Linked DNA regions of Homo sapiens. The protein of the gene in region 1 purifies or fractionates together with the protein of each later gene. This does not show direct contact. Each region holds a gene or a part of one and is shown in the gene's direction. Other genes may lie near its edges. The genes, in order: USP48, ZC3HAV1, PXK, CLEC3B, SLC9A3, WDR76 and CMA1.

The links.
Region 2: the proteins of USP48 (region 1) and ZC3HAV1 purify together in Homo sapiens (affinity purification with mass spectrometry; 2 studies listed by BioGRID, with this or other methods). This does not show direct contact.
Region 3: the proteins of USP48 (region 1) and PXK purify together in Homo sapiens (affinity purification with mass spectrometry; 3 studies listed by BioGRID and IntAct, with this or other methods). This does not show direct contact.
Region 4: the proteins of USP48 (region 1) and CLEC3B purify together in Homo sapiens (affinity purification with mass spectrometry, with the first as the bait; one large-scale study listed by BioGRID). This does not show direct contact.
Region 5: the proteins of USP48 (region 1) and SLC9A3 purify together in Homo sapiens (affinity purification with western blotting; 2 studies listed by BioGRID, with this or other methods). This does not show direct contact.
Region 6: the proteins of USP48 (region 1) and WDR76 purify together in Homo sapiens (affinity purification with mass spectrometry; 2 studies listed by BioGRID). This does not show direct contact.
Region 7: the proteins of USP48 (region 1) and CMA1 purify together in Homo sapiens (affinity purification with mass spectrometry, with the first as the bait; one large-scale study listed by BioGRID). This does not show direct contact.

The regions. Positions count from the first base shown.
Region 1 is NC_000001.11:21,772,840-21,777,008, reverse strand, and holds part of USP48 (ubiquitin carboxyl-terminal hydrolase 48), read left to right. Parts: intron 1-4,169.
Region 2 is NC_000007.14:139,078,605-139,082,773, reverse strand, and holds part of ZC3HAV1 (zinc finger CCCH-type antiviral protein 1), read left to right. Parts: intron 1-2,530; coding exon 2,531-3,304; coding exon of another isoform or gene 3,305-3,670; intron 3,671-4,120; coding exon 4,121-4,169.
Region 3 is NC_000003.12:58,391,735-58,395,903, forward strand, and holds part of PXK (PX domain-containing protein kinase-like protein), read left to right. Parts: intron 1-38; coding exon 39-113; intron 114-3,263; coding exon 3,264-3,368; intron 3,369-3,923; coding exon 3,924-4,025; intron 4,026-4,169. UniProt on the Homo sapiens protein: Binds to and modulates brain Na,K-ATPase subunits ATP1B1 and ATP1B3 and may thereby participate in the regulation of electrical excitability and synaptic transmission. May not display kinase activity.
Region 4 is NC_000003.12:45,024,710-45,029,332, forward strand, and holds the start of CLEC3B (tetranectin), read left to right. Parts: upstream 1-1,593; 5' UTR 1,594-1,653; coding exon 1,654-1,762; intron 1,763-4,623. UniProt on the Homo sapiens protein: Tetranectin binds to plasminogen and to isolated kringle 4. May be involved in the packaging of molecules destined for exocytosis. Plays a role in retinal function.
Region 5 is NC_000005.10:471,935-476,103, reverse strand, and holds part of SLC9A3 (sodium/hydrogen exchanger 3 isoform 1 precursor), read left to right. Parts: intron 1-11; coding exon 12-84; intron 85-432; coding exon 433-543; intron 544-784; exon of another isoform or gene 785-967; intron 968-971; coding exon 972-1,221; intron 1,222-2,704; exon of another isoform or gene 2,705-2,721; coding exon 2,722-2,725; 3' UTR 2,726-4,169. UniProt on the Homo sapiens protein: Plasma membrane Na(+)/H(+) antiporter. Exchanges intracellular H(+) ions for extracellular Na(+) in 1:1 stoichiometry, playing a key role in salt and fluid absorption and pH homeostasis.
Region 6 is NC_000015.10:43,864,523-43,869,102, forward strand, and holds the end of WDR76 (WD repeat-containing protein 76), read left to right. Parts: intron 1-1,605; coding exon 1,606-1,870; 3' UTR 1,871-3,890; downstream 3,891-4,580. UniProt on the Homo sapiens protein: Specifically binds 5-hydroxymethylcytosine (5hmC), suggesting that it acts as a specific reader of 5hmC.
Region 7 is NC_000014.9:24,505,074-24,509,798, reverse strand, and holds CMA1 (chymase isoform 1 preproprotein), read left to right. Parts: upstream 1-1,533; 5' UTR 1,534-1,563; coding exon 1,564-1,621; intron 1,622-2,292; coding exon 2,293-2,443; intron 2,444-3,194; coding exon 3,195-3,330; intron 3,331-3,516; coding exon 3,517-3,771; intron 3,772-4,139; coding exon 4,140-4,283; 3' UTR 4,284-4,446; downstream 4,447-4,725.

The DNA.
Region 1 (4,169 bases):
TGAGTAGCTGGGATTACAGGCATGCACCACCACACCTGGCTAATTTTTTTTTTTTTTCTTTGAGACAGAGTTTCACTCTTGTTGCCCAGGCTGGAGTGCAGCGGCACAAACTCGGCTCACTGCAGCCTCCGCCTCCCAGGTTCAAGCAGTTCTCCTACCTCAGCCTCCCGAGTAGCTGGCATTGCAGGCACCACGCCCGGCTAATTTTTGTATTTTTAGTAGAGATGGGGTTTTGCCATATTGGCCAGGCTGGTCTCGAACTCCTGACCTCAAGTGATCCCCCCGCCTTGGCCTCCCAAAGTGCTGGGATTACAGGCGTGAGCCACTGTGCCTGGCCCTGTCAGCTTTTATTTAGATATCCAAAAAGCTCTCTTTCTACTCACTTTCTTCTTTTTTTTTTTTTTTTTTTTTTTTTTGAGACAAGACACTATTCACTTTCTCCTTTTTTATAGAGACAGAGTCTTGTCACATTGCCCAGGCTGGTCTCAAACTCCTGGGCTCTAGCAGTCCTCCCTCCTCAGCCTCCTAAATTGCTGGGATTCCAGACATGAGCCTTTCTCCTTTTGTTTATTTCTTCTCTTTGCAAGAAGAGACTAAATAAATAAATAGTATCACCAATATGTATTTTTCATACTTTATGCAACAATTTGTTATGAGATACCAAAGCTGAAGAATGAGGTGTTTGACCATATTCAAAGACCACATGTGTCAGGACTGTTTACATTTCTGAAAGTACTTAGGGCAATCACAGGATGAAAGCAGTGTGTACTAAATCCTCTGTCCACAGAATTCTGCAAATATTATGTGTCTTGAGGGCAGACTTGTTTGTTAACAGTGAGGTTGGTGGTCAAGTAAGTTCCTGGAAGTAAAATTGTTGGGTAAGGGATGTGTGTTTTTCATATTGATCCATGTTGCTAAATTGCCCCTCAGAATGAGGGTTTCTCTTTACATTTCCCTGTCAATGTGTAAGAGTATCTTACATATACATCATACCCTCACCAACATAATGTGTTAGTCACACTTTCTGATCTAAGTGCAAAGGGTTTCATATGTTTAATATGTATTTATTTTGTTACAATTTCTTTTTGTTACAGTTAATCTTTTGATGTGAAATTTGTTTTGTTTTGTTTTTGAGACGGGGTCTTACTATGTTGCTTAGGCTGGTCTCAAACTCCTGGGCTCAAGGGATCTTCCTTCCTCAGCTTCCTGAATAGCTGGGATTACAAGTGCATGTCACCATGCCCAGCCTTGATATGAATTTTCAAAGGCTGGATTTACTTATGCTTCCAGCCGTGTATAGGGAGTACAATGTCTGTTTTGTTCTCATTAGGGAAACATCATATGACTATTACTAAATTAAAACATTACAGAAATGTGTGAAGCACTCTAGAAAGCCAGTGTCATGCCACCTTACTTCAGTGGCTTTGTAGCTCTAGTCCCAAAACCCTAATGAGGGCCACGCACGGTGGCTTACGCCTGTAGTCCCAACACTTTGTTAGGCCGAGGTGGGAGGATTACTTGAGGTCAGGAGTTTGAGACCAGTCTGGTCAACATGGCAAAAACCCATTTCTACTAAATTAGCCGGGCATGGTGGCGGCATACACCTGTAATTCCAGCTACTCAGGAGGCTGAGGCGCGAGAATTGCTTGAACCCAGGAGGTGTAGGTTGCAGTGAGCCAAGATTGAGCCACTGCACGCCAACCTGGGTGACAGAGTGAGACTCTGTCTCAATAAAAACCAACCAACCAAACAAAATAACCCTAACGAGGACCCATAGTTCCAGCTACACTGGAGACTGAGGTGGGAGGATGGCTTAAGCTTGGGAGGTGGAGGTTGCAGTGAGCCAAGACCATGCCACCGCACTCCAGCTTGGGCGATAGAGCAAGACCCTGTCTCAAAGGAAAAAGAACAAAGGGGAGTCACAATACATACTTTGTTGCAACTTGTTTCTATTCATGCATGTAGAGCTGCCTTATTTATTTATTTATTTATTTATTTATTTATTTATTTATTTATTTTTGAGAGAGTCTAGCTTTGTTGCCCAGGCTGGAGTGCAGTGCGTGAATTTGGCTCACTGCAACCTCCGCCTCCCAAGGTTCAAGTGATTCTTGGGCCTCAGCCTCCGGAGTAGCTGGGACAACAGGCATGGGCCACCATGCTTGGCTAATTTTTGTAGTTTAGTGGAGACGGGGTTTCACCATGTTGGCCAGGCTGGTCTCAAACTCCTAACTTCAGGTGATCTGCCCACCTCAGCCTCCCGAAGTGTTGAGATTACAGGTGTGAGCCACCGCACCTGGCTATTCTTTTTTCGTTTGTTTGTTTTGAGACAGAATCTTGCTCTGTTGCCAGGCTGGAGTACAGTGGTGCAATCTCGTCTCACTGCAACCTCTGCCTCCCGGGTTCAAGCAATTCTCCTGCCTCAGCCTCCTGAGTAGCTGGGACTACAGGGGCGCCCCACCACACCCGGCTAATTTTTGTATTTTTAGTAGAGATATGGTTTCACTGTGTTGGCTAGGATGGTCTCGATCTCCTGACCTCGCGATCTGCCCACCTTGGCCTCCCAAAGTGCTGGGATTACAGGCATGAGCCACTGCGACCGGTCCTATTCTTTCTTAAAAAATATTCTTATGTATGTTTATGATATATAACATAGCATACATACAGATAGTAAAATGGTAACTGTAATGAAGCAGATTGACATCTGTTATCTCACAGTTACAAATTTTGTGTGTGGCAAGAGAAGCTAAAATCTCATTTAGCAGGAGCCCCAAATACATACCTGCCTTATTATTATTATTATTATTATTATTATTATTATTATTATTATTTTGAGACGGAGTCTCGCTCTGTCACCCAGGCTGGAGTGCAGTGGCGTTATCTGCTCTCACTGCAACCTCCACCTTTTGGGTTCAAGTGATTCTCCTGCCTCAGCCTCCCGAGTAGCTGGGATTACAGGCGCATGCCACCATACCCACCTAATTATTGTATTTTTAGTAGAGCCACCACACCCAGCCAGTTACATAGTTTTTTAAAAATAGAGATGGGGTCTTGCTTTGCTGCCCTGACTGGTCTTGAATTCCTGGCTTCAAGCAGTCCTTCCACCTTGCCCTCCCAAAGTGCTGGGATTACAGGTGTGAGCCACTGTGCCTAACCTTCATTATAATTTATTTAACCAGTTTCCTGTTGATGGACTTTGGGGTTTCCGGTTTTTGATAATACAACCCGTGCTGCCCTAGCCAGCCCTCTGCATCGATCTTGAGTGTTGAGTGAGTGTTTTCACTTAGGTTGCTAGATGAGAAATTGCTGAGGTAAAGGGACTGCTTAGAATTTTGATAGATGTCAAAAGTTCATACCATTTATCCTGGTCCTCTAGAGTGAGTGTGCCTATTACCTTATACAAAGCATTTCTATTCCCAGCTTCCATCTGATTAGCGAAAAATAGCATCTTATTTTCATTTGCCATTTTTTGCTGGTGACATTGAGCATCTTTTTAATTTTATTTTTTAGTTTTATAGAGATAGGATCTCATGTTTTGCCCAGGCCGGTCTTGAACTCCTGGGCCCAAGAAATCCTCAGCCTTGGCCTCCCAAAGTGCTGGGATTACAGGCGTGAGCCACTGTGTCCCTTCTCCTTTTTATATTTACTTGCCATTTGTATTTCTCCTGTGAATTGTGTGTTCTGGATTGTTGGTCATTTTCTTACTGATTTTCAAGAGCTTATTGAATATTTCTTTCTTTTTTTTTTTTTTTTTTTTGAGACCGAGTCTCAGTCTGTTGCCCAGGCTGGAGTGCAGTGGTGTGATCTCAGCTTGCTGCAACCTCTGCTTCCTGGGTTCAAGCGATTTTCCTGCCTCAGCCTCCCAAGTAGCTGAGACTACAGGTGCCTGCCACTATGCCTGGGTAATTTTTGTATTTTTGTAGAGAGGGGTTTCACTATGTTGGCCAGGCTGGTCTTGAACTCCTGACCATGTGATCCGCCTGCCTCAGCCTCTCAAAGTGTTGGATTACAGGCGTGAGCCATCACGCCCGGCCGAATATTTCTTTTTTCTTTCTTTTTTTCTTTCTTTCTTTCTTGGTTTTTTTTTTTTGAGACAGAGTCTTGCTCTGTTTCCCAGGCTGGAGTGCTGTGGTGTGATCTCAGCTCACTGCAACCTTTGCCTCCCAGATTCG
Region 2 (4,169 bases), on another chromosome or scaffold:
CAACCCTAGGTACTTCATATAAGTGGAATCGTACAATATTTATCCTTTTCTGACTGGCTTATTTCACTTAGCATGATGTCCTCAGGGTTCATCCATGTTATAGCATATGTCAGAATGAATATTTCATTGTATGTATATAATTATAAATTTTTTATCCATTCATCTGTCGATGGATATTTGGGCCATTTCCAGTTTGGCTATTGTGAATAATGCTGCTGTAAACATGGTGTACAGATACCACTTTGAGACCCTGTTTTCAGTTCCTCGGGGGTATATAATCAGAAGTAGAATTGCTGGATCATATGGTAATTCTATGTTTAATTTTTGGAGGAACGATCATACCATTTTTTGTAGCAGCTGTGCCATTTTTCATTTCTGCCAGCAGTGCACATGGGTTCAAATTTCTCACATCCTCTATCATTTTGTGTTTTCTGATTTTTTTTTTTAATAATAGCCATCCTAAGGAGTATGAAGTGCTATTACTTTTTTTTTTCTTTCCTGTTTTGAGACAGAGTCTCACTCTGTCACCCAGGCTGGAGTTCAGTGGTGCGACCTCGGCTCACTGCAATGGCCGGCCGCCTCCTGGGTTCAAGTGATTCTTCTGCTTCAGTCTCCCAAGTAGCTGGGATTACAGGTGCCTGCCACCACTCCCAGCTAATTTTTGTATTTTTAGTAGAGACGGGTTTTCATCATGTTGGCCAGGCTGGTCTTGAACTCCTGACCTCAAGTGATCCACCCACCTTAGCCTCCCAAAGTGCTGGGATTACAGGCGTAAGCCACCATGCCCAGCCAAGTGCTGCTATTTCTGAAGCATTTTCATATTATATAATGGCATTCATTTTTAATGTCTTTATGAAGTGGATGTAGGAAAGATGAATTTTATGAAGCAGATAGAATACATGATTCTAGGATTCTGTGCAAATTAATGAACAATTAAACCTCCTTATATTTGGGAAATGGTTTATCATTTACAAGGGACTTTCATCCCAAATAAATATTTCATCATTGTTCCTCACAGTGAAACCACAAAGAAAGGTAGATATGTCATTTTTTAGCCTTACTTAAGAGGGTAAAGAAACTGAGGCTCAGAAATAGTAAGCAATGTTTATTGCAAGCAGCCTCAGCTCATTTTTAGAAGAATGAAGGATAATGTAATGAAGAAATAAAAGGTAACATTTTCAAGGCCTCACATCACTAGAAAGTAGCAGAGTGCATGTTCTGATCCCATATCTAATGCTTTTTCTCTCTCACTACAGTTCCCTCTGAACAGAGGAATGTCTGGAGGGATGGGTTTTGGTGGTAGCTTCTCAATGTAAACTTATTGTGAATGAGAAAGATCTGTATATATTTTCACTTCCAGTTAATCTCCTGAGTTAAGCCTTTTCTTGACAGGAGGAGGGTGTTTGCTTTTACTACATAACTACTGCCCCCTGGGTTTGGAAGAGAAAAAAAATGTCTCTTCTACCCCTTCCCCACACAAAAAAGCACAATTCACACACACACACGAGCACACATGCACACCTCACATTCACACACCACACGTGCACATGTGCCTCAAACACAGACATGCACATCTTCCACATGTACCCCCGGCACACAAACACACCCCACATAAACATCACGTGCATGCACGCCACACACACTCCACACGCGCTCACAAACACACCCTAACTCCTTCCTTCCTCCCTGCTTCCAGAAGGGTGTGACCTATCAAGTTTCTAGAGGAAGGCCAATTCCCTGCAGGCCACACTGCTTTGTCGATGTTGACTTCTGATATACTTTGGCCTTATGGAGTGAGATGAAGAAAACTGGAAAAATTTCCAGCTTAAACAAAGTCAGGCCTTTAGACTGTGGTTTCATTTTCTGTTGGTTTCTTTGAGCATTGTGAATCTGTCAATAGCCAGGTACACCCGTATCACGATATGGGCAAAATCGAATGCTTTCTGGAAAATCTTCTCTGATTTGCCCTAATCTATCTCTCCATTGACCCCAGTGATGAACGTTGACTCAGGACCAGGAGATAGTGGACAGCCCCACCTAAAAGTTTTGGGGTTTGGGGGCTACTTTGAGTCCCAGAAGAGAGCCGGGGACTGTCATCCTAGAGCTGATCCTCACTGTCATCCTAGGCCATGGAATGACGTGCTCTGCCGTGCAGGCAGAATGTCAAGATTCTTTCATCAGCTGACACAGTTGGTGAGCACCTGTAGTCTCAGCTACTCAGGAGGCTCAGGTGGGAGGATCGCTGGAGCCCAGGAGTTCGAGCTTGCAGTGAGCTGTGGTCGGGCCACTGCATTCCAGCCTGGGCAACAGAGCAACACTCCATCTCTTAAAACAAAAACAAAAACAAAAAAAACCGTCAGTGTCAAACCACCCATCTTCAAGATTTTTACACATCAGATTACGCCAAGTAATTTGATAGCACTTGGATAGCAAAGCTACAAAAGTGAAGAGGAGGAAGGGTGGTAGGAACTCAGTCACATTAACTCCAATGTTCATTATTTTGTTTCATTTTGGCTTTTTTTCCCCTTAGCTCCTTCTTCACATCGTAGAAACATGGCATATAGGGCTAGAAGCAAGAGTAGAGATCGGTTCTTTCAGGGCAGCCAAGAATTTCTTGCGTCTGCTTCAGCGTCTGCTGAGAGGTCCTGCACACCTAGTCCAGATCAGATCAGCCACAGGGCTTCCCTGGAGGACGCGCCTGTGGACGATCTCACCCGCAAGTTCACGTATCTGGGGAGTCAGGATCGCGCTCGGCCTCCCTCAGGCTCGTCCAAGGCTACTGATCTTGGAGGAACAAGTCAGGCCGGGACAAGCCAGAGGTTTTTAGAGAACGGCAGTCAAGAGGACCTCTTGCATGGAAATCCAGGCAGCACTTACCTTGCTTCCAATTCAACATCAGCCCCCAACTGGAAGAGCCTCACATCCTGGACGAATGACCAAGGCGCCAGGAGAAAGACTGTGTTTTCTCCCACGCTACCTGCCGCCCGCTCTTCTCTTGGCTCTCTGCAAACACCTGAAGCTGTGACCACCAGAAAGGGCACAGGCTTGCTTTCCTCAGACTACAGGATCATCAATGGCAAAAGTGGAACTCAGGACATCCAGCCTGGCCCTCTTTTTAATAATAATGCTGATGGAGTGGCCACAGATATAACTTCTACCAGATCCTTAAATTACAAAAGCACTAGCAGCGGTCACAGAGAAATATCATCACCTAGGATTCAGGATGCTGGACCTGCTTCCCGAGATGTCCAGGCCACTGGCAGAATCGCAGATGATGCTGACCCAAGAGTAGCACTTGTTAACGGTAAATACAAAGGGAAGACACTTTGGGCTAGTACATTTGTTCATGATATACCAAATGGCTCTAGTCAAGTAGTGGATAAAACTACTGATGTAGAAAAAACTGGTGCCACTGGTTTTGGCTTAACAATGGCAGTCAAGGCAGAAAAAGATATGTTACGTACTGGAAGTCAGAGTCTGAGGAACCTGGTCCCCACCACACCTGGGGAATCCACTGCCCCTGCACAAGTCAGCACTCTGCCTCAGTCACCTGCTGCCCTTTCCTCAAGCAACAGAGCTGCAGTCTGGGGGGCCCAAGGGCAGAACTGCACCCAGGTTCCTGTTTCCTCTGCCAGCGAGCTCACAAGGAAGACAACAGGCTCTGCTCAGTGTAAGTCACTGAAGGACAAAGGGGCCTCTGTGTCTTGAGTCTGCAGCAGAGTGGCTATGGCTGGTGGTTTTTCCTTGGATGTTCCCCAGTTCTTAAAGGGTAGAGAGTTAGAGGGTTTTGGTTATGGGGTGGTCTGGTGAGGAGATTGACTAGTGAAGACAGGGAAGGGCCAACCAGTAGAACCACAGGGAATAAACTGCCACATTTATTGACAATAGGAATATTTCAACTATGATTTAAGAAATAAACATAGCTTTCACAGGACTCTGAGGTCCACATTTTTGTTTTATGGAGGGGCTGTCTAGATGCTCATGGGCAAAACATAAATCATAGGAATTTTCTTGAACATGGCCCCCATTTCAGATATTCTTTCCCATTGTGAGACCAAGTGCTTTGATTTTTGGTTTAAACATTAAGATCAGCATACATGCATCCTTTTTTGTTTCATAGATTCTTTATCTGATGTCACAAGTACCACATCTTCTAGGGTGGATGATCA
Region 3 (4,169 bases), on another chromosome or scaffold:
CCAAAACAGTACCCTGATATTCCCTTCCATGTTTTCAGGCTGACCTTGGCCCAGACAAGTATTTGTCAGATAAAGATTTTCAGTGTCTAATCAAACTTCTGCCTTCTTGTTTGGTGAGTATACGTCTTTCTTTTATTCTCAGTGCTGATGATAGAGTCACAGTATTTTTTCTGGGTGAACATGGACAGAAAAGCTGGAAAACAGAATGGGGAGATACAGTGGATTTCAGGTCAGACTGAAATTGTGTAGGGCTAATCTCTTAGATCATAGGCTATTTGAAATGGCATTCATGACATCTGCACAACCCATGAAACATAGTAATTTAAATACAGACTTTGAATTTTAAACAAAGATGAGAGTAGGGAAGCAGCTACTTCTCCCAGCCTGTTGTTCTTGGTGAAGGTATTTATCTCAGTGGAACTGAAAGATACTCTTTCCAGCCTGAGAAAACAGAACTAATGAGGAATTTAGATAAGCTGGGTGAAGAAAAGGCAAAATAGCCATTTTTCTGTCTGAGTTACTACCTTCACAGGCTAACCAGATGACCTTTAGGAATACATGATATTATTTACACGACTACACAGCTCTAATCCAGGGCCTTCAGTGCAAAGAACCACGTTGATATATTTCAAAATATGTGCAGAATGTCTTCAGCAAAGACTAATCTGGCCAGGAAATTGAGTTAACATTGACATTCTTTATCTTGTCTGCATGAAGATGTAGTTCCCTGGAATGAATCACTAGCGAACTGAACACAATTACACTGACTTGTGCACTTGGTTTGGCAAGTTTATTTTTGGCCATATAGTGTCTTGTCAAGCTTGCAAACCAAGCTATTAATGAGGTGCAATGTGAGGCCAAAAAGACGCTTTAGTCTTAGAGCTTGATTGGTTGTGTGACATAGGCTGTCAGGACCTAGTTCTAAATTTCTTTTTTTTTTTTTTCAAGGTGGAGTCTCTCTTTGTCACCCAGGCTGGAATGCAGTGGTGCGATCTCGGCTCACTGCAACCTCCACCTCCTGGGTTCAGGCGATTCTCCTGCCTCAGCCTCCCAAGTAGCTGGGATTACAGGTGCATGCCACCACACCCAGCTAATTTTTGTATTTTTAGTAGAGATGGGGTTTCACCATGTTGGCCGGGCAGATCTTGAACTCCTGACCTCATGATCCGCCTGCCTCGACTTCCCAAAGTGCTGGGATGACAGGTGTGAGCCACCGCACCCGGCCCTAAATTTCTTTTAATAGAAGTGCTTCTTTAAAAAAAGAAGCACATAAAAATGGTGCATATTAATTGTAGCAAAGTCAGAAGGCAGATAAGCAAAAATAAGAAAATAAGCCGAGTGTGGTGGCTCATGCCTGTAATCCCAGCACTTTGGGAGGCTGAGGCGGATGGATCACAAGGTCAGGAGATCGAAACCATCCTGGCTAACATGGTGAAACCCTGTCTCTACTAAAAATAGAAAAAATTAGCTGGACGTGGTGGTGGGCACCTGTGGTCCCAGCTACTAGGAAGGCTGAGGCAGGAGAATGGCGTGAACCCGGGAGGCGGAGCTTGCAGTGAGCCGAGATCGTGCCACTGCACTCCAGCCTGGGCAACAGAGCAGACTCCGTCTCAAAAAAAAAGAAAGAAAAGAAAAGAAAACTCACCAGTAATCCCAGTCAAACAGAAGTATGAACCAAAATATTCAGTTGTTACTTTTTAAGAATTTTTATGATAAAAAAGTAAATTATATATGTAGTGCTTTAAAACCTGATTTTTTTTTCATTAATGGTGTACCATGAGCATCTTTAGTTGTTAGTAAATATAGCATCATTATTATGGGCTGTATAGAATTATCATTGGCTATACCTTAGTTTACTCAATCTTCTATTGACATTTAGATCACCTCCAGCTTTTTGCTCTTATTTTTTAAAAAAGAAAAAAGCCATAATGAACAATTTTTGCTAAACATTATACCCATACTTAATTTCTTAAGGTAAATACCTATAATTAATAACCAATGTGTAAGGAGATATTGTGACACTACATATTCTGTTCTTTATGAAGCCCACTAGCATTTTAACATTTAATGTGATTTTCTAACTCTATTATTCCTTCCGTATTTACTTATTAGTTGGCATTCTACTCTAAAGAGCTTCTCTTCTCCCTTTTAAAAAAATTTATATTAGTATGTACTCAAGGATTTTTATTCTACCCATTGTGTTTCTTTTTGGGGTGATGAAAATGTTCTATAATTAGATTGTATGATGGTTGTATAACTGAATATACTGAAAATCATTGACTTGTACAGTTTAAATGTGTGAATAGTAATGGCATGTGAATTATATCTCAACAAAGCTGTTAAAAAGTCAGCAGCAACCATTTTGATGTGATGATCAGGAGAACTTCATGATCAATTACTCTGTTTTCCTGGGTACACCTTTCCACCCCCCAACCTGCTGCATGCCAGCCTCCAAAATCCCTGCATAGCTCAGCTCCCATGGGTTTAAATTTTCATGATACTCCTTTGAGCTAGTGAACATTGTAATACCTGTCTGGACCCAGTTTGTTTCACGTAACCAGAATTCCAGGGAAAAACAGCACTTTCCTTTCACTCATTAAATAATTTGTCTTTTCTCCACCCCAGTTGCTTAATGTCAGTTTCTCCATCTGAGGAGGACACTGTGAATCTTTATGTTGCAGAATTCTATAGAAGGGTAGGAAGATTCATGCCAGCTACTGTGGAAAGGGCTGAGATTCCAGAAGATGCTACTTTTGCCTGTTTTCTGGCTAGTATGCTTCTTGGCTTGGCACCCAAACAGCAGTGTGGAATGTTAGGCAAAGCTGTGAGCAAAGACACATTGATCCTGGTCTCCATTTGGCTGTTCTGAGATTTGGCTGTATTCTTTACTGACTTACAGAGACAGGATATTAACACTATTATCCTCAAAACTCAGACATTTTATCTCTTCCACCACACTTTTGCCTGAGCTATGAGAGTGCACACACCAAAGAGGACCCCTTCACTTGTGGAGTTTACCACATCCATTATCTGTCTCCTGTTTTCCTTTGTTCCTACAGTTTATGTCCCTTCCTCCATCTGAAGAAGGAGGAACTAGCTGGTAACTGAATAACTTGAAAATGCCATGTGTTCAGGGAATATCACTACATTCGTATGCAATTAAACCACCACAGTGCTACTTGACTCTGCATAACCAGATCCTGTATTTAAAAGGACCTAGATCCTGACGCAAATCAATGTGAATTTCTTTTTTGTTTTGACAGCACCCTTACATCTATCGGGTTACCTTTGCCACAGCTAATGAATCCTCAGCGTTGCTAATTAGGATGTTTAACGAAAAGGGAACATTGAAGGATCTGATCTACAAGGTACCTGTGCAAGTTCATGGTCATAAGGAATTCTCAAGTTCCTTTAGAACCTGTTATTGATACTTAGTCTCTAAGACTCCAGAGGCTAGGCCCTGAGGATTTGATGTTAGTTTTGATTTTATTTGGAATTTATTTTTATTCATGCAATAAAAACTCTACTTAGTTTGGTTAAAGAGCATTCCTTTTCCCATGTGAGGAAAGGTTGAACATTTAATAATTATGTCCATTACATGGCAAGCTGTTCTCTTAGGTCAGTTTTTAAGTTTGTGTTTTGCGCTTAACAAAGCAGTTCTGAAGAATTCGAACAATATGCAAGACTTTGGGGTCTGCTAAGGGCAAGACCAGGCACATCTTCACTGGGCTAGAGAAGGGATGGAACCTGGGTCAGCCTCTTTCTATCAACAATGCAGACTGTCGTATTTTAAAAACTCACATCTTGCAGCTGGCCATCTCTGGCGCCCCTAGCCTCTGTAGAATCCTGCCTGGTCAGGGAGTCTGTGTGCAGATATTGGCCCCTCTGCTGCTTTCTTACGTGTTCTTTGTTCTTTTCCAAAGGCAAAACCAAAAGACCCATTTCTAAAGAAGTACTGCAACCCTAAGAAGATTCAGGGCCTGGAACTCCAGCAAATAAAAACATATGGACGGCAAATATTAGAGGTAAGAGGTACTTTTGTTTAAGTTGCATTCAGATTTCATCCAAAATTGCATTATTCACCTGGAAAAGTTCTTAAGTAATATCCAAAATTACTTAAGTTGTCTGATTACTTATAAACTGATTGCATTGTCATATTTTGCCTCAAA
Region 4 (4,623 bases), on another chromosome or scaffold:
ACTGCAGCCCCCCAGGTGCTGCAAGCTTTTTATTGGCCCTGTTGATGTTTACTTTGGTCACAGATGAGGTGATGTCTGCCAGCCTTCTTCACCATGAAGTTGCTCTTTTTCTCTCTGGAATGGATAAGTGTTTTGTGGGCAGATACTTTGAGGCTATGTAAACATCCCATTGAAGAACATCAGACTTTCAATGCGTTCCCTTACTTACTTATATCTGTGTGCACTGGTGGTTTCCCATCTGTTACTGTCACTATGTTGGTGCTCAAATTGTCCCTGATTCTGACCACTGAAGGCTCCTTCAAGCTGGCTCTGTGTCCTACTGACGTGTTCCCATTATTCATTAAGCACTTCCTTGTTTTCTGGCAAAACAACAAGTTCCGGGCTCATTTTCTGCACCCCACTCCTACTTCCCAGTGCTAGAATCAGCCGTTTCTGCAAGGTGCTCTGGTTCCTTTAGTGGAAAGTCATATTCAGAAGCCAGTATTCAGGTGCTAGGAGTGCTCCAGGCTATGCGGGGCTGGCTGCTCCAGGCCCCCCAGTGACTGTGGGGACTAGACACACACACATTTCCATCTATATATATGGACTTATCTTTATGTATTCAAGGCCACAAGGGTACACTGATCATTCCGATTTTAATCCCACACAACAGGATTCATTCCAGTTTTCTCTCCATATACATAACTTCCTTCTCTGACAATAGGAAACCTAACTCCCACTGTCTTCAGTAGATTTATTTGATCAGTATCCCTGTGTGTAACCAATCTCCCGTCTCTGCCACCAGCCTCTCTCCCACATGGATCCCCTCCTTGCCTCACTTGGACTCCAGCACTCCAGGCAGGGCCTTTGCTTTCCCCAGGATGCTCCCTCCACCCTGCTGGGCTCCCACACCCCACACCAGTCCACCCCTTGAGGGCACATTCTCCCCACATCCTCTCTGGTACCTCTGGGGCACGATGGCTTCTCCCTCCGCCACCTTTGCTATGCCCCACTTTGTGGCTTTAGGACAGGACTCAGGAGAAAGGGAAGACAAGAAGGGAAGGAATCCCTTGGATTTTTTAACCAAAAAATGCATCAAGTACATGGAGACAGAGCCACAAAATAATCATAACAAATATTCTAAACCAATCAGACAGCCAGCCCCAGATCACCCTATAAGGGGGCATTGCTACCCCGTGACAGCTGGGTAGCCTGGGCAAATTCCCTAACCTCACCGAGCCTCAATTTCCTCAATGGTAAAATGGGGAAAGGACAGTGCTTCCCTCGTGGTTTGGGTGTGAAGCTTCTGTGAGTTAATGTTAGTGAACAGCCAGCCTCAGCCCCTACCCAAGGTAGCTGCTCCGCAGATGTGATGACAACCACCGTGTGTTTCTCAGAATCCTAGGAAATAAGGGCTTCTTTCTAGAAGGCAGGGCCAGGATGCTGCGTGGGTGTTCCCTGGCAGAGAGGCTCTGTGGCCCTCAGGACTTCATCCTTCTGCAGGCTTGTGTGTTTGTTTTATTTTTTTGGCACGCCTGCAGCCAAGTTGGGGAGGGTTTCCTGGACAGAGGTCCTTTGGCTGCTGCCTTAAGACGTGCAGCCTGGGCCGTGGCTGTCACTGCGTTCGGACCCAGACCCGCTGCAGGCAGCAGCAGCCCCCGCCCGCGCAGCAGCATGGAGCTCTGGGGGGCCTACCTCCTCCTCTGCCTCTTCTCCCTCCTGACCCAGGTCACCACCGAGCCACCAACCCAGAAGCCCAAGAAGATTGTAAATGCCAAGAAAGGTAAGGAGGGGGACAGAGCCCTGTGCCATCTTCCAGGGAGCAGGTCCCCCTCTCCTTAGTGTGTCCTCATGCTCCTTTCCTTCATTTTCCTCCTTTTGAGTCATCTAGGGAACTTGAGTAAAGTGGGCTTTGGGGCTTGGGGGAGTTCTCTCATAGCAGAGTTGGTTGTCAGAATCATAAGAATCCCTGACCCTTAGAGTTGGGAAGAACCTTCCAGATCATCCAAACTGATCTTTGCTCTTCTCTCCTCCCCTCATCCCCAATATTTTAAAGAAACCAAACCTTTGGCCTGGGAGTCTGGCAGCGCTCAGCCCTTACCAGGGAGAGCTGCACAGGCTGGGCTTTGGAGTCTTCCAACCTGTTTTCTCAACTGTAAAATGGGGACAGTGGTATTTGTTCAAAGACTTCTCATGAAGATTTTATGATACAAAATATATAAAGGCACCTCACTTGTTGCTTGATGCACAGGGAAAAGAAAAAGAAGAAGAAATGAATTCTCATTTCTGTAGCATATCACAGCCTTCAGGAAATAAATGTAACTCAGACTAGTCCACCAGAAGCAGCTTTGCTCTGCTTTGTAGCCTCTGGGGATTGGGGTGTCCCTCGGTTGCTTTGGCTACAGCAAGACTTGCCCTTGCAGCCCCGCCTGCAGTGAGGTCACCCCAGGCTGTGTTGAGACAACATCAGTGGAATGTCATGGCAATGGACGGGGCTGTCACCCCCCCAGGGAGCAGAGGCTAGAAGAGAGTCCAAGGGGATGAGGGTGGGGACTGAGGCAGAGAAACAAGCAGCTAGGACCAAGGGCACAGAAAAGGAAAGAAGGGGCTGTGGGGGCCTCCCTTAGGCCCTCCCGGGGCTCTTCATAAATGGACAGTTGCCCACTGGCCAGGAACTAGTGCAGTGCATAAAGGGACATCGGGGCCATGGGGCCTCACAACACTGTGACAAAGAATGGGGCAAATCTGGCTGCTGATAAAAAAATCATCTTCAAGATTCAGTTTACAAAGTGAAAAAAGAAACATTCAAAAGAGAATGAGTATGATGCTGACATTTGCTTTGAAAAAGGGATTTATATAATAATACATTTTTACTTGTATGTGCATAAGTTCTTTCTGGAAGGATCCACAAGAGTGAGTAACAGTGATTACCTCTGGGAAGAAAAACCAGGGGCTGGGCGCAGTCTCAACTGGGAAAGAAACCAGCTTTTTGAACTGTTTGGATTTTAAAAAATTATGTGTGTATATTACCTTCCACAAAATGTTCATTTAAAAAGAGAAGACAATACCGTGCATAGTTACGTCTATGAGCATTAGCCAAAATCGCCACCAAGGGAGAGCCTTTGTAAAAGATGCAGCTCCAAAGGCAAATCATAGAATTTTTGAATGTGGAAAACCATCGCCAGCTTCTCAAGTTTACCAAAGATTCAGTATTAATATAATTATGTAAATCTTTTTAAACTCATGTTAAAAAAAAAAGGGTCAGAGCACGTGATGCCTTGGTTCTCTCCAGCTGTCACACTTGAACCCTGGCCCTATGTGGTCTCCATAGAAGGGGCCCCTGGAGTTCCAGGGCTACAGGCCAACAGAACAGCCACCCAGGCCCTGCCTCTCGCTGAAACCCATGGCAGTCTCCCGCCCACCAACATGGCAGGCACTTATAGAGCTCTTTCTCCACGTAGGCACCAGTCTATATGCTGGACACACAGCAGAGAAACACCGTCTCTGCTCTTAAGACATGAACCATGGTGGTTCTCACTCAGGCATCAACATCATCTGGGAGATACATTAGAATCCAGGTGCCTTGGCCAGGCGTGGTGGCTCAAGCCTGTAATCTCAGCACTTTAGGAGGCCAAGGTGGGAGGATCGCTTGAGGCCAGGAGTTCAAGACAAGTCTGGCCAACATGGTGAAACCCTGTCTCTACTAAAAATACAAAAATTAGCTGAGTGTGATGGTGTACACGTGTAGTCCCAGCTACTCAGGAGGCTGAGGCAGGAGAATTGCTTGAACCTGGGAGGTGGAGGTTGCAATGGGCCGAGATTGCACCACTGCACTCCAGCCTGGGTGACAGAGTAAGTGAGACTCCGTCTCAAAAATAAATCAATAAATAAAATAAAAGTTAAGAATTCAGGTGCTTGGGCCCCACCCCTGGAAATGCTGGTTTAGGGATCTTGGTGAGTTTAGCATCTGCCTTTTCCACAGGTCTTCAGGGATTCCTAGGAGCAGCCAGGAATGAGAATCTCAGGGGCAATCTAGTTGCAGGGCTGGTGCCCAAAAGTACGGGAGAAAGTCCAAAGAAGGGACGGTCATGCCAGAGGAGACCAGTTGGTGCCAGGGCCAAGAGGGGGAGAGCAAGTGGCAGGACTGGCAAAGGAAGGGAATGCCAGCATATGCTAAGTCCTTGTCCTGGCCCTCAGGGTGGGTGAGAAGCGGGGAGCCTAGAGTACTTCTGGGAGCTCATCTGTTCTTGGGGCCACATGGTCACACCTGGCAGGGAAGCTCCGGAGGGAAGGATGGCCTCATAGGAGTCACAGGCCTTTAGAACAGGGAACTGGGGGAACCTGGAGGGCATCCATTCTAACATCACGCAGAAGGAACCTGAGGCTCAGAGAGTGGGCCAGCACAAAGGCCTCCTGACTCTGCCCAGGGCCGTAGAGACACCTACTCCCACAGCTTCCTCAGGTGGAGCTAATGAGAGTAGCTTCCTGTACCTTGGACAGTCCCTGGAGGAAACTTTGCACATATGGGCACCTTGGTGCAAATTACAAAAGGTACCTCCTCTAAACTGACAAATTATAGAAAGGCATCTCTTTTTCTGGTCTGACCCACTCTAGCCAGGGCAAGGCTTAGGAGACAAATGGGCC
Region 5 (4,169 bases), on another chromosome or scaffold:
TTGCTCCGCAGAGAAACAGCAGCATCCCCAATGGGAAGCTGCCCATGGAGAGCCCTGCGCAGAATTTCACCATCAAGGAGAAAGGTGCGCTGGGGGCCCTGCAGGAACGCTGGGACTGGGAGCCACCACCTCCCAGCCCCAGCCCTCCCGGCTCGGGAACCTCCCCTCTCAGGACCTTCCCCTCTGGGGACCCTCCAGCCACCCAGGCAGGGGAGGCATGGTCAGGGCCCCAGCTGCAGACCCACCCAGGATGGGGTTCCAGGGACACTGCCCTCTAAGTGGGGTCCCTCCTCCAGCCCTGCGGTTTAGCCCTCCTCTCTGTGGGTCCCGACTGCCTGCACCTCTGTGCACAGAGCTGATGGACACTGCTGACTGGGCTGTGAGGACAGCCCCCCAGTGACCCCAGTCCTCACCCCAACCTGTCTTCCCCAGACTTGGAACTTTCAGACACCGAGGAGCCCCCCAACTATGATGAGGAGATGAGTGGGGGGATCGAGTTCCTGGCTAGTGTCACCAAGGACACAGCGTCCGACTCCCCTGCAGGTGGGGACGGGGCACAGGCGTCGTGGCTAAGGGAGGGGTGGCTCCTGCCGCCCCAGGAGGGAGCTCGGTCATTGGACCAGGGGCACTGGGACCTGGGGGGGTGGGGTCTCCTGTGGGTTCTCAAGGGCCCTGCTTGGCACCCACTGAGTGCCCCCTCAACCAACTCGGAGGCTGCTGTCCGGGGAGACGTGGGCCGGGCAGGGAGCAGGTGGGGTATGTCTTGAGGGAAGCGAGACGTTACCTGTGCTGCCTGTGGCGTGTGGGGTCATGGATGTGGGGGAAGGGCCCGCAACCTGAAAGGCACGTGACCCTAACCTTCCCGGTGACCCTAACTTTCCAAGGCACCCAGCAGGTGACGGCCCCGGCGAGGTCTCCCCTGCCGCCGTGGGGCTCTCCGAAGGCTGACTAGCCGCTGCCCTCTCTCCTAGGAATTGACAACCCTGTGTTTTCTCCGGACGAGGCCCTGGACCGCAGCCTCCTGGCCAGGCTGCCGCCCTGGCTGTCTCCCGGGGAGACGGTGGTCCCCTCGCAGAGGGCCCGCACGCAGATTCCCTACTCTCCCGGCACCTTCTGCCGCCTGATGCCCTTCCGCCTCAGCAGCAAGTCCGTGGACTCCTTCCTGCAGGCAGACGGCCCCGAGGAGCGGCCCCCCGCCGCCCTCCCCGAGTCCACACACATGTAACGCTCCCGGGCCTCCCGCCGCCTAACCCCTCTCCGCAGCTCCTCTCCCTCCAGGTCTCCGCCTCGCGCGCGCTGTCTCTCTCCCTCCCCGCCTAACCCCTCTCCGCAGCTCCTCTCCCTCCAGGTCTCCGCCTCGCGCGCGCTGTCTCTCTCCTCCCTGGACCTGAACCTGGCTCGCTCTCTCTCTCCCCGCCTAACCCCTCTCCGCAGCTCCTCTCCCTCCAGGTCTCCGCCTCGCGCGCGCTGTCTCTCTCCTCCCTGGACCTGAACCTGGCTCTCTCCCTCCCCGCCTAACCCCTCTCCGCAGCTCCTCTCCCTCCAGGTCTCCGCCTCGCGCGCGCTGTCTCTCTCCTCCCTGGACCTGAACCTGGCTCGCTCTCTCTCTCTCCCCGCCTAACCCCTCTCCGCAGCTCCTCTCCTCCAGGTCTCCGCCTCGCGCGCGCTGTCTCTCTCCTCCCTGGACCTGAACCTGGTTCTCTCTCTCCCTCCCCGCCTAACCCCTCTCCGCAGCTCCTCTCCCTCCAGGTCTCCGCCTCGCGCGCGCTGTCTCTCTCCTCCCTGGACCTGAACCTGGCTCGCTCTCTCTCTCTCCCCGCCTAACCCCTCTCCGCAGCTCCTCTCCTCCAGGTCTCCGCCTCGCGCGCGCTGTCTCTCTCCTCCCTGGACCGGAACCTGGTTCTCTCTCTCCCTCCCCGCCTAACCCCTCTCCGCAGCTCCTCTCCCTCCAGGTCTCCGCCTCGCGCGCTCGCTCTCTCTCCTCCCTGGACCTGAACCTGGCGCGCTCTCTCTCTCCAGCAGCCCCTCTTCCTCCTCTAGCGCCCTGCTGGCCGCACCTCCCTCAGGAGCCCGGACAGAGATACTCTGGCGTCTCTGCTGCTCCCACGGAGCTGAGGGCACTAGGGCCGCCTGAGATTTCCTTTAGGTGGCTCCGAAAGCTAGTCCGCGAGTCCAAATCCTGCGCTCCCAGGGAGCTGAGAGCAGGGCTGGGGGAAGCCAGACAGACGCCCCGGGTCCCCGACCCTCTCACAGGGATACAGGGAGGGCCGGCCCCGCAGACCCGGACTCTGCCTCCAGCTCAGAGCAGGGAGAGGGGCGGGCCGTGGGGTCTGGGCTTTCTGAGCTCCCTCTGGGGGCCTGGGAGGCACCCGGGGGACGCCAGGGCGGTTTGAGATGGAGGAAGCAGGTCCCCTTGGGGACCTTGACCTCCCGCGCTGCAGGGCCTGGGGCGGGACCTTCCTGCGCCGAGGAGGCCGCTGTCCCGGGACCCCCGGCGGGGGGACGTGGCGGGGCCGGGCTGGGGCTTCGCTGTTGCTGCTTCCGCCTCTGCCCCGCGAACCCGGGTCCTGGGAGGAGGCCCCAGCGGACGCCGAGCCTGGGGTGCGCCGCGGGAGGGGAGGCGAGAGCCGCCGGGCTCGGGGACAGCTGAGGCCCCCGGGGACGCCCCTCCCGCCCCAGCGCCCGGGCTCCGCGCGCCGCTCACGCCTTCCTCTCCCGCAGGTGACACCGGCTCCGACACGCCGCTAACCGGCCGCTCGTCCCCGCGCCACGGTCCGCCCACCGCCGCCGCCGCTGTCCCAGAGAAACCCCAGATCCCCGCGCGGCTACAGCGACCGCGAGCCCCGAGCCCCGCCTCGCCCACGCCAGCGCCTGCGCAGAACTCCGAGAGTGCCGCGCCTGCGCCCGCAGAGCCGCCCGAGGGCGAGCCGGGGGCGGGGCCTGCGCCGGGGGCGGGGCCGGAGCGCCGAGGGCTGCCGAGTGCGCACGCGCGTTCGGCGGCGGCGCGCCGCGTGCACAGCCGGCGCTCGTTCCAGCGGCCTCGCGCGCGCCGCCGCCCCGCGCTGCTGAAGCTGGCGTCGCTGCCGCCCTCGTGCCACGCACCGCCGCACGCGCTGGAGCAGGAGGAGACGCCGCTGTGACGCCGCCGGCGGGAAGGGTCCGCGCGCCATGGCTGGCCGCTCGCGCCCTTTCCCACCGCTGCCGGGAAACCGAGGCTCGCCCCAAACGGATTTGCGTGAAACCAGCCCAAGGTTCCGGGCCCCCCCAACCGAGCCCCGCGCCCGGGGACTGACTCGGGGACCGACTCAGGGACCTCCCGAGCGCCAGGACTCAGGGCCCGACCTGCAGCGGCTGCAGGCCCAGCGCCCGCAAGCGGCCTGGGCCGAGCGCCGTTTCCAGGCCCTCGCCAGGTCTTTGAACTGCAGGTAAAGTGGCAGGAACGTCTTCCGTCTGCTCAGCGTTTGGGGATTTAGACTCCTAAAGCCAGTACCTGCCCCGTTTCCCCCCCAGGTTCCGTCCTGCCCGCGCCCGGTCTCAGGGTGGCGGCCCCGGACACGGCCCGTCCCCACAGACGAGGTCTCCGGCCTGAGCTGTCGCACCTGGCGCGGAGGTCGCCCGGGGTGCCCTGGCTGGGTGAGAGGTGGCCTGGCGGGCGGAGCTTGCCAAGAATCACGGCCAGTCCTTAAGTGGATGGTGGGGCCCAGCAGCTGCTCTGTCCCCCTTAACAAACCAGGGGGCATGGAGGGGCCCAGGGCACCGCCCCCCTACCAGGCTCAGGCCCTCCAAGGAGAACCTGCTGAGACCCCTGAGCCTGTCCTAGACCCCGGACCCCTGACCCTTCCCACCCCTTCCAGCGTCCCAGGGCGAGGCCTTGGACAGAGCTCCTGGTCCTCTGCAGGGAGACCATCCAGCCCAAGCTCTGGGAGGCACAGTCCATTGAGTGGGCGGAGGCCGCGGGTGCTGAGCCGGGGAGGGTGCTCGGAGTCCATCCATCCCTCAGACGGCAAGTCCCACAGGGTCCAACCCACCTGAAACCTGCCTGCACGGTGGAAGTGGTGGAGGTGGACACTCCTAGGGGCTTTTCTAAAGCTAGACTCGCAGCTCCTTGCTCAGGAAAATTAAACTATTCACGTTTCAGATCAAGTGTTGACAGTCACCAGTCAGGAGGA
Region 6 (4,580 bases), on another chromosome or scaffold:
TATAATTGGCCATTTGTATATCGTCTTTTGAGAAGTGTGTATTCAGATCTTTTGCCCATTTTTTAATTATTTGTTTTCTTTTTTTTTTTTAAACGGAGTCTTGCTCTTGTTGCCCAAGCTGGAGTGCAGTGGCATGATCTGGGCTCACTGCAACCTCCGCCTCCTGGGTTCAAGCAGTTCTCGTGCCTCAGCCTCCTGAGTAGCTGGATTACAGGCATGAGCCACAATGCCTGGCTAACTTTCCTATTTTTAGTGGAGATGGGATTTCACCATGTTGGTCAGGCTGGTCTTGAACTCCTGACCTCAGATGATCCACCTTCCTCAGCCCCGCAAAGTGCTGGGATTATAGGCATGAGCCACTGTGCCCAGCCAGTATTATGTATATTTATTTTATTTTTTAATTTTTAATTTTAATTTTTTGAAATGGAGTCTCCCTCTGACACGGGGGCTGGAGTGCAGTGGCGCGATCTCAGCTCGCTGCAACCTCCACCTCCCGGGTTCAAGCAATTCTGCCTCAGCCTCCCCAGTAGCTGGGATTACAGGCAAGCACCACCATGCCTGGCTAATTTTTGTATTTTTATTTTTTTTTTTGAGACAGAATCTCACTCTGTTGCCCAGGCTGGAATGCAGTGGTGCAATCTCGGCTCACTGTAGCCTCCATCTCCTGGGTTCAAGCAATTCTCCTGCCTCAGCCTCCCCAGTAGCTGGGATTACAGGCAAGCACCACCATGCCTGGCTACTTTTTGTATTTTTATTTTTATTTTTTTTGAGACAGAGTCTCACTCTGTTGCCCAGGCTGGAATGCAGTGGTGCAATCTTGGCTCACTGTAGCCTCCATCTCCTGGGTTCAAGTGATTCTCCGGCCTCAGCCTCCCTAGGAGCTGGGATTACAGGCACCCGCCACCATGGCCAGCTAATTTTCCTATTTTTAGTAGAGACGGGGTTTCACCATGTTGGCCAGGCTGTCTCGAACTCCTGACCTTGAATGATCCACCCTCTTGGCCTCCCAAAGTGCTGGGATTACAGGTGTGAGCCACTGTACCTGGCCAATTTTTGTGTTTTTAGTAGACTGGGTTTCGCCGTGTTGGACAGGCTGGTCTCGAACTCCTGACCTCAGGTGTTCCACCTGCCTCGGCCTCCCAAAGTGCTGGGATGACAGGCTTGGGCCACTGTGCCTGGCCATATTATGTATATTTTTAAAAAATTTATGTAGGGTGACTATTCTAGGGGGTAAGAATTTTCATTAATGATGGGGTCATTTAAGTGGCAGTGGGAAATGTGTAGTCCATACTTTAATGAAAAAGGATTGTTAGTGATATTAAGGCAAAAAGACTAAAAGGGCAGTACTTCTGTTTTTGCTTTTGGGAACTATAAAGGGCTCCATATGTTTTATTTTGGGAGATTTTTAGATGAGGAGGATATCGTCTCTGTCCAGAGGTTCAGTCCTGTAAGGATGAGGTAAGGTTGGTGGTAACTCAGTAACTTAATGAGAAGAAACTTGGCAGAGAAAACTAGCATTTAGGAGCAATGCCGTCTTTACCCTCTGCCCAATGCTACCTTATTTAACCTTACTTCATTTAAAAAATATATTGTTTTCCTCACTAGGCACAACACTTTCACTGGGCGATGGCTGACCAGGTTCCAAGCCATGTGGGATCCTAAACAAGAAGACTGTGTCATAGTTGGCAGCATGGCCCATCCACGACGGGTAGAAATCTTCCATGAGACAGGAAAGAGGGTGCATTCGTTTGGTGGAGAATACCTTGTCTCTGTGTGTTCCATCAATGCCATGCACCCAACTCGGTATATTTTGGCTGGAGGTAATTCCAGCGGGAAGATACATGTTTTTATGAATGAAAAAAGCTGCTGAGTTTTTGGTTTAGGAACATCAATTTGTTCAAATTGACCACTGTCTAAGGAGCCTAGTAATCGGCGTGCCTTAGTGTGTTTATGTGGTAATGTGTTACATTTAGCAATTATAACATTGTTTTATTAATAAGACTATAAGAAGAGTGTACTTTTAGTAAGGGAGAAGTCTTGGAGGGTTGCTTCTGCAGGACGGGGAGGGAATTTGAGGGGAGGCTGAGGTGCCGTCAGGACTTTTTTTTTTTTTTTTTTTTTGAGATGGAGTTTTGCTCTTGTTGCCCAGGCTGGAGTGCAATAGCGCGATCTTGGCTCACCGCAACCTCCGCCTCCCAGGTTCAAGCGATTCTCCTGCCTCAGACTCCTAAGTAGCTGGGATTACAGGCACCTGCCACCACGCCTGGCTATTTTTTTGTATTTTTAGTAGAGATGGGGTTTCATCATGTTGGCCAGGCTGGTCTCGAGCTCCTGACCTCAGGTGATCTGCCCGCCTCGGCCTCCAAAAGTGCTGGAATTACAGGCGTGAGCCACCATGCCTGGCCATCAGAACTTGTAATCAAGACAGTATGTTGAGAAATTCTAACATTATAAATTACAAAGCTTTGACTATTAAAGTTTTTGTGATCTAATGATACAGTTTTGATTCTATAGTAATTTGTGGCTTATTTTATAGTTTATAATGAATACTTATTTCTAGACTCATACACTGGAAGGGGACCCGGAAAGGTAATGTAACTCAGTGATTTTAAAACTTGATTTTTTTAACTGAGAACTTTTTTTGCCCCCTGCCTGTAGGTTAAGTCTTACGTGAAATGCCAAGATAATTGCTGAGCAGCTTTGGTTACCCAGGGCGGGGTCTGGGTCTGTCTGTACTTTGCCTTTACTCTAGATGGCTCCTGAGACACAGGCAGGACTCCCAAGCACCGGGTTGGGATCTGCCCTGGTCCCGGCATTCCAGTATAAGATTGCCTCAGACCTGTGTTTTTCAGACTGGGTTTTTGCTCTTCACATGAAATCAAGTTAGATGACAATGACTGGTGTTGAAAAAAATGAAAAGGAAAGAATTTGTAAAGAACAGAAAATATATTTGAGTAAGTATTGTTTGGTAAAACTTAGTTACATATGCATATATATTTGTTAGGTATATATGTTTATGTGTATTCTGATGTAAAATATATATATATATATATTTTATTACTATAGTACCATGGGTAATGGATAAAGAAGTTAAAGCTACTGCTTAGAATGAAGAAGGCCCCAGGCTTACCTGTCCCGATCTTTAAACTGTCCGAAGGAAATTCAATAGCCTGTTAAGTGAATACCTTCATTCTTACTTGTATTTGGGGGAATATTATGAAATACTCACCACTTTTGGTATTTTATGAAAATGTTTTCTTTTCAGAAGTTATGGTAATTTCAATGTGTTTGTTGTTGGGAGGGGAGCTGCCAAATCAGTTACTAATATTACTGTGTGACATCTATCCAACTTTTTTCATTATTCTTCATTGCCAAATACTGAAAGACTTGTAAATGGCTTTGGCAATATGTTTGAATTCTAAGAGGAAATATTTTCCCATAATTGTATATCAGAGAAATATAGTGATATACAATTTCCTTGAAAACCAATTTCTAAATAATTTTCTTCTCTGTAATCTAAGTGTAAAAAGGTTTAGTTTTTTAATAGGTTTAGGTGTTTATAAGCAATAGTTCTCTATTTTCTAGTTGATATAAGTAGAAGAATTGACAAGTGAGATGGAAATGTTAATTTATAAAGGGAAAGAAAAGCTAGGTGAGGTTGAGTTATAATTAAACTGTTCAGGAAACATCGTAAAGGCTTTAGGCTCCCTTTTTCATTTCTATACCAATTAATCTCATGGGTTCTAGAGTGGTTAGTTCTACGGGAATTGTTTTTGTTTTTGTTTTTAAAGATGCTGAAAACTACTCTCAATCAAATTAGTACCATCATTTAAGCTTTGAATACTTGGCAGTAATTGCCTGGGCTCGTCAATAAATGTTAGCAAATTCTTGATGTTCCTCACTTTTGTGGTTTCTTTTGCCATTGTGGCTTCATAAACAGTGCTATTTATATTCAGTTATACTTTATAGAGTTATATCTTCAGGCAGTGCAGGAAGGAAGGAGAATGAGTAGGGACTTTTTTTTTTTTTTATTGGTGATAAGCTTTCTAATGGAGTAATTGTTTAAATCTAGACAGCACATAAAAGAAAATTGTCTCCCTTGGGACATTCTTACACTGTAATCTGTAGTGAAAGGTACTTCTCCCACAGACTTGCCTACAGCTGTGTGGCTTCTGTAATTATGTGTGTATTATGATTGCCTCCTTCGGGATAAGCCTTTTCTGTAAGTTTGGCCTTTATGATATCTCTTAAGCTCTGAATTCCGCTTGAGTTTTTTTTTTTTTTTTTTTTTAAGATACCCAGGCTTTTGTTATGTAACTTTTAAGGAAGGAGCAGACAATTCTCATTTTTGGTTGTCAGAGACTTTGTCAGACTAGGAGAGACCACAAATGATTAGGAATTAATAGAATCTGAGTTGCTTAAGTCCTATTTTAGTATTCTGGTCTTTGAGCTTCCTTTCCACCAAGAAGATTTTGCAAGGGGAGTTCTCCAGGAAAACAGGGAGCCTTAGGGCTATGGATACAAGGATTTAAATCCTTTCAGCTAATGTACAGTACATGGGGTAGGGTGGGGGAGAAGAC
Region 7 (4,725 bases), on another chromosome or scaffold:
AACTAAAAAATGATTTGTTGTTCATCTGAAATACAAATTTAACTGGGCATTCTGAATATTCTCTGGCAACCCCCGAGAGAGTGAAGAAAGTGGTACAAGGACACTTAAGAAGACCAGATTTGAAAAGACATTACGGATGTGTTTAAATGTCTTATTCTAGAGAGAGTTAGAGCTGTAGGTAGAACTTGGGAAATTAAGTTAAAAGCAACAGAGGACCTGGCCAATATATACTAAGGAGTGGATCACTCTGGTCACAAGCCCAACCTGAGACCAAGGGCATAGTGAGATGATTTGGGAAAGGCACTTATACACTACTCATCCCCGTCTTTGAACTAAATGCCTTATAAATCTCCAAGAGAAATGACAGTCCACCATGTGGACTGCTTTCTGTAAGTCCAGGGAAAATAAAAGCTATGTGCTTGAAACCCACTTCTGATATTATAAGGTGTGTGATCTTTGTCATGTTAATGGGTCTGAGTATCAATTCTACAATTGTAAAGTGACAGTAATGGTGTGTCCCCAGGTTGTTGTGGAAAGCTTGATTCTTAATGCAACAGTAGGAAACCCCAACCTCTCTGGAGCAAACACCCTTCTACATCTTTACTTCCCCTGCACATTGGCAGGACTCTATTCCTCTATTTCTCTCTAGTGCTAGAGCAGAAAGGGACCTTGATTTGATATCAGGAAAATCTATTTCTGAACCATAAGCTATGATAGCTGATTTAAAAAATTGACTATCATGACATGATAATGATCATAATGGTAATACATATTGATAGGGTTGCCGTGAAAGTAATAATATATCTAAGAGTTGTGACAATATATGATACACCTAGACTCTCAGAAAATGCTAATTCCAATCCCAATTGCTCTTTGCATAAAGTTCTGTCCTAGGGTCTGTTCTTTTCCCACATCTACCCTCCTTGGATCTCTCTTCTGTCAAAAACATGTGGTTCAGAGGAGGAGAGAGATCCAGGTCAATGTTTTTCAAATTACAAGGAATTATCATTTAAATGGGGTTGTTGCTCAAGTTTTGACGTGTAGTGGAATGGAGTGGAGTGGAGTGGAATGGAAACTAACAGAAAACACTGCACATGGTTAAGATAAAGATTGTTTCCTGAAACCTTTAATTTGTGCTTACATACTCACACATACATATGTGCATGCACTGGGACTCTGCAATATGCATTTCTGACTATGGAACATAGCCATAAAAGTCTTTGCACTGAACGTTCAGTGGGCCTTTCACAAGCTGCCCTAATTGGGAAAGAAAAACATGGTCCCTCCATTTCCTGCCCCCAACTCCAGAAAAGTCACCATAGTTGAGGGTACATCTGAGAAGCCAGCACTTGGGAGTTCAGGGCTCAAGTTCCTTTCTAGAAAAACACTGGGTGATTCTAGGGGAACTTCTGATCAGAAACAGCCAATTCAGAGTGAGAGAAGAAAACGTGACCATGCAGTTCCTGTGGTTACCAGCCTTGCCCCTCTCTTGCCTTCTGGGAGTTATAAAACCCAAGACTGGAAAGGAAAACCAGCATTTGCTCAGGCAGCCTCTCTGGGAAGATGCTGCTTCTTCCTCTCCCCCTGCTGCTCTTTCTCTTGTGCTCCAGAGCTGAAGCTGGTGAGTATCAGGGTTCTTCCCTCTGAAATCTGCAGTATCAGCTCCTGAAACAAAGATGTTTAGTCTGAAAATAGCTGACTCCTAAACAGGGTTCCAAGATCTCTCTTCAAGAGTCCCAGAGGGAAATTTCCACTTGGGATGTGTGCCACCCCACCCCCACCCCCACCCACTGCCATTCTCTACAGCCTAGGACAGCCCCCAGGAACAAGGAATTTCACCTCAATTGTAGAAAAGCCCAGAGCAAGTGGAAGGAAAAGGGGTATCCCCAGGAAAACAGACATGTCCTCTTAATCTTCTGAGCATCAGGGCTACCCATTACTTTGTGACTTTCTCACTCTGTGACCATGCTCAAGAGCTATGGAGAAATCTAAAACAGGAACCTGGACAGTGGGTCCTACACAGAGACAGAGGAGGGTGGGCCAGGGCAAGGTGGGAGTGGGAGAAGTCTGAGATGAAAACATCAGAATGGAGCAGAGGCAAGAATGAGATTTCACCTGGGAGGTTATGGGTGGGGAAAGATACGAAATACAGGAGACAGGAGAGGGAAGATGGGCGGAACACAGGGTGAGAATGAGATTCCAGGGAAGCCTAGCTCAGCTTTAACCCAATTTGTCCATTCATTGGAGAGAGTATCTATGGCCGTGTTCAAACCCTGGGGTGCTCTGTTCCAGGGGAGATCATCGGGGGCACAGAATGCAAGCCACATTCCCGCCCCTACATGGCCTACCTGGAAATTGTAACTTCCAACGGTCCCTCAAAATTTTGTGGTGGTTTCCTTATAAGACGGAACTTTGTGCTGACGGCTGCTCATTGTGCAGGAAGGTGAGACAACAGGGTCTATTTATCTCCAAATGGGAGATGAACAACCAGAGTAGCATCCAGGAATACACCTGCACTGGGGACTGAAGAGGGGGTCCTGGGTCTTGTCAACTTTCAGGAGAGGGAAGACTTGGGCTGAAAGACTTTAGTCTGTGTTTGAATAGTTCCTTGAGCCTCAGTCACTGTGAGCTAAGCTCCCCTTCGGAGGAAAAGGAGGTCCTGTCCAAGGTCCCTCTTGTTGCAGTAGCACCCCTCACCCCTACCCAACTCAAGACACACGGCTCACTTTTCAGGGCCCCACCCAGTCTCAGGGCCACTTCCTCTATGGCCTTTTCAAGAACACTGGCCTCTAGTTCTCAGGGTCCTGAACCCATCATTTTATGGGAGGCAGAGAACAGGGTCTACATGAGACCCCCACTTTCCCGTTTAACTGATATCTCCTGCTTCAGGGGCTGGCCCTCATGCAGGGTTCCCTGAATTAGGAAGTGTGAACCCTGTCCCCTGAGTCCTCCCTGGCCTGTTCAGTCCCCAGCAATTCCAGGGGTCGTAGAAATTGTGTCTGTTTCCTGAGAAAGCTCTTTCATGAGTTAAGCCTGAGCCCTCAAATGCCACAAGTGGCCCATGAAAAGGGAGATGGGTAGAGTCCGGCGACCCAGTGACAGAGTTTAGTCCTCTTTTCTCAGAATGAGCTCACCTCAGAAGAAACCCCAAGCCATCACTGTCGCTCCTTTTCCTTCCTTCTTCCTCACAACAGGTCTATAACAGTCACCCTTGGAGCCCATAACATAACAGAGGAAGAAGACACATGGCAGAAGCTTGAGGTTATAAAGCAATTCCGTCATCCAAAATATAACACTTCTACTCTTCACCACGATATCATGTTACTAAAGGTGACAACACCTCTCTTCTCCCTTTCCACTTCCCATTCTCCTAAGCTTCTCCTTCAGGTCCTCATTGCCCTGAATTTTTCTTAGGACTTGGCTATAACATGAAGCTACTCACCCTGTCCCTCCCTGATCACCTCCAACTGTCCAGAGCCCATTTCGAGGACTGACAGTCCTTCATTCCCTTCACAGTTGAAGGAGAAAGCCAGCCTGACCCTGGCTGTGGGGACACTCCCCTTCCCATCCCAATTCAACTTTGTCCCACCTGGGAGAATGTGCCGGGTGGCTGGCTGGGGAAGAACAGGTGTGTTGAAGCCGGGCTCAGACACTCTGCAAGAGGTGAAGCTGAGACTCATGGATCCCCAGGCCTGCAGCCACTTCAGAGACTTTGACCACAATCTTCAGCTGTGTGTGGGCAATCCCAGGAAGACAAAATCTGCATTTAAGGTGATCCTCCAACTAGGTTTCCTCTCCAAAACTCACTGTTCAGGGACCAGAATGCTCTTAGAAGGAGATGGGGTCAGAAGGTTGTCAGTCAGTGACAGGGTGAGCATCACAGGAATTGCTGTCCTCCCGTGGTCCAAGACAGCCTCTGACCATCCATTCCAGTCTACTGCACTGGGGGCATGGGGTGATGTGGAGAATGTGGATGACGGTCCCAAGAAAGGAAGAAGGGGCATCAGAACTAGATGTATAAGTGAGGAGCTCCACCTCCTGCGTCTGACTTTAGGTCTCACTGTGACTCCAAGCTGGCTGGCAGACAGGAGTGGAGGACTTCCCGGGCTCACCTTCTTCTCTCTCTCCTCCCCCTACAGGGAGACTCTGGGGGCCCTCTTCTGTGTGCTGGGGTGGCCCAGGGCATCGTATCCTATGGACGGTCGGATGCAAAGCCCCCTGCTGTCTTCACCCGAATCTCCCATTACCGGCCCTGGATCAACCAGATCCTGCAGGCAAATTAATCCTGGATCCTGAGCCAGCCTGAAAGGGAAGCTGGAACTGGACCTGAGCAGCAAAGTGTGTGCCACTCATTCTGGTCTACCCTTGGTCCCTCAGCCACAACCCTAAGCCTCCAGAAGTATCCTACAGGTCACAGAACTCTCAATAAACCTCAGTGAAGACACAGCTTCTAGTCGTGAGTGTGTGTCCCCTCTCTGCTGCTCTCTTCTCCCTGCACATAGTGACCTGATTCCCAGCCCAAGCACCCAAGGATTTGGAAGGGGTTTGTGTGTGTGTGTGTGTGTGTGTGTGTGTGTGTGTGTGTGTGTATGGGGGGGGAGGGAGAGAGAGAGAGAGAGAGAGAAATAGAGAGGAATTAATGAAGAAAAAAAAATGAGGAAAAAGAAGAGATTTTCCCTGGAAAGGCAGGATCCATATTTCCAGCTTAAGAAAAGACACCAAATC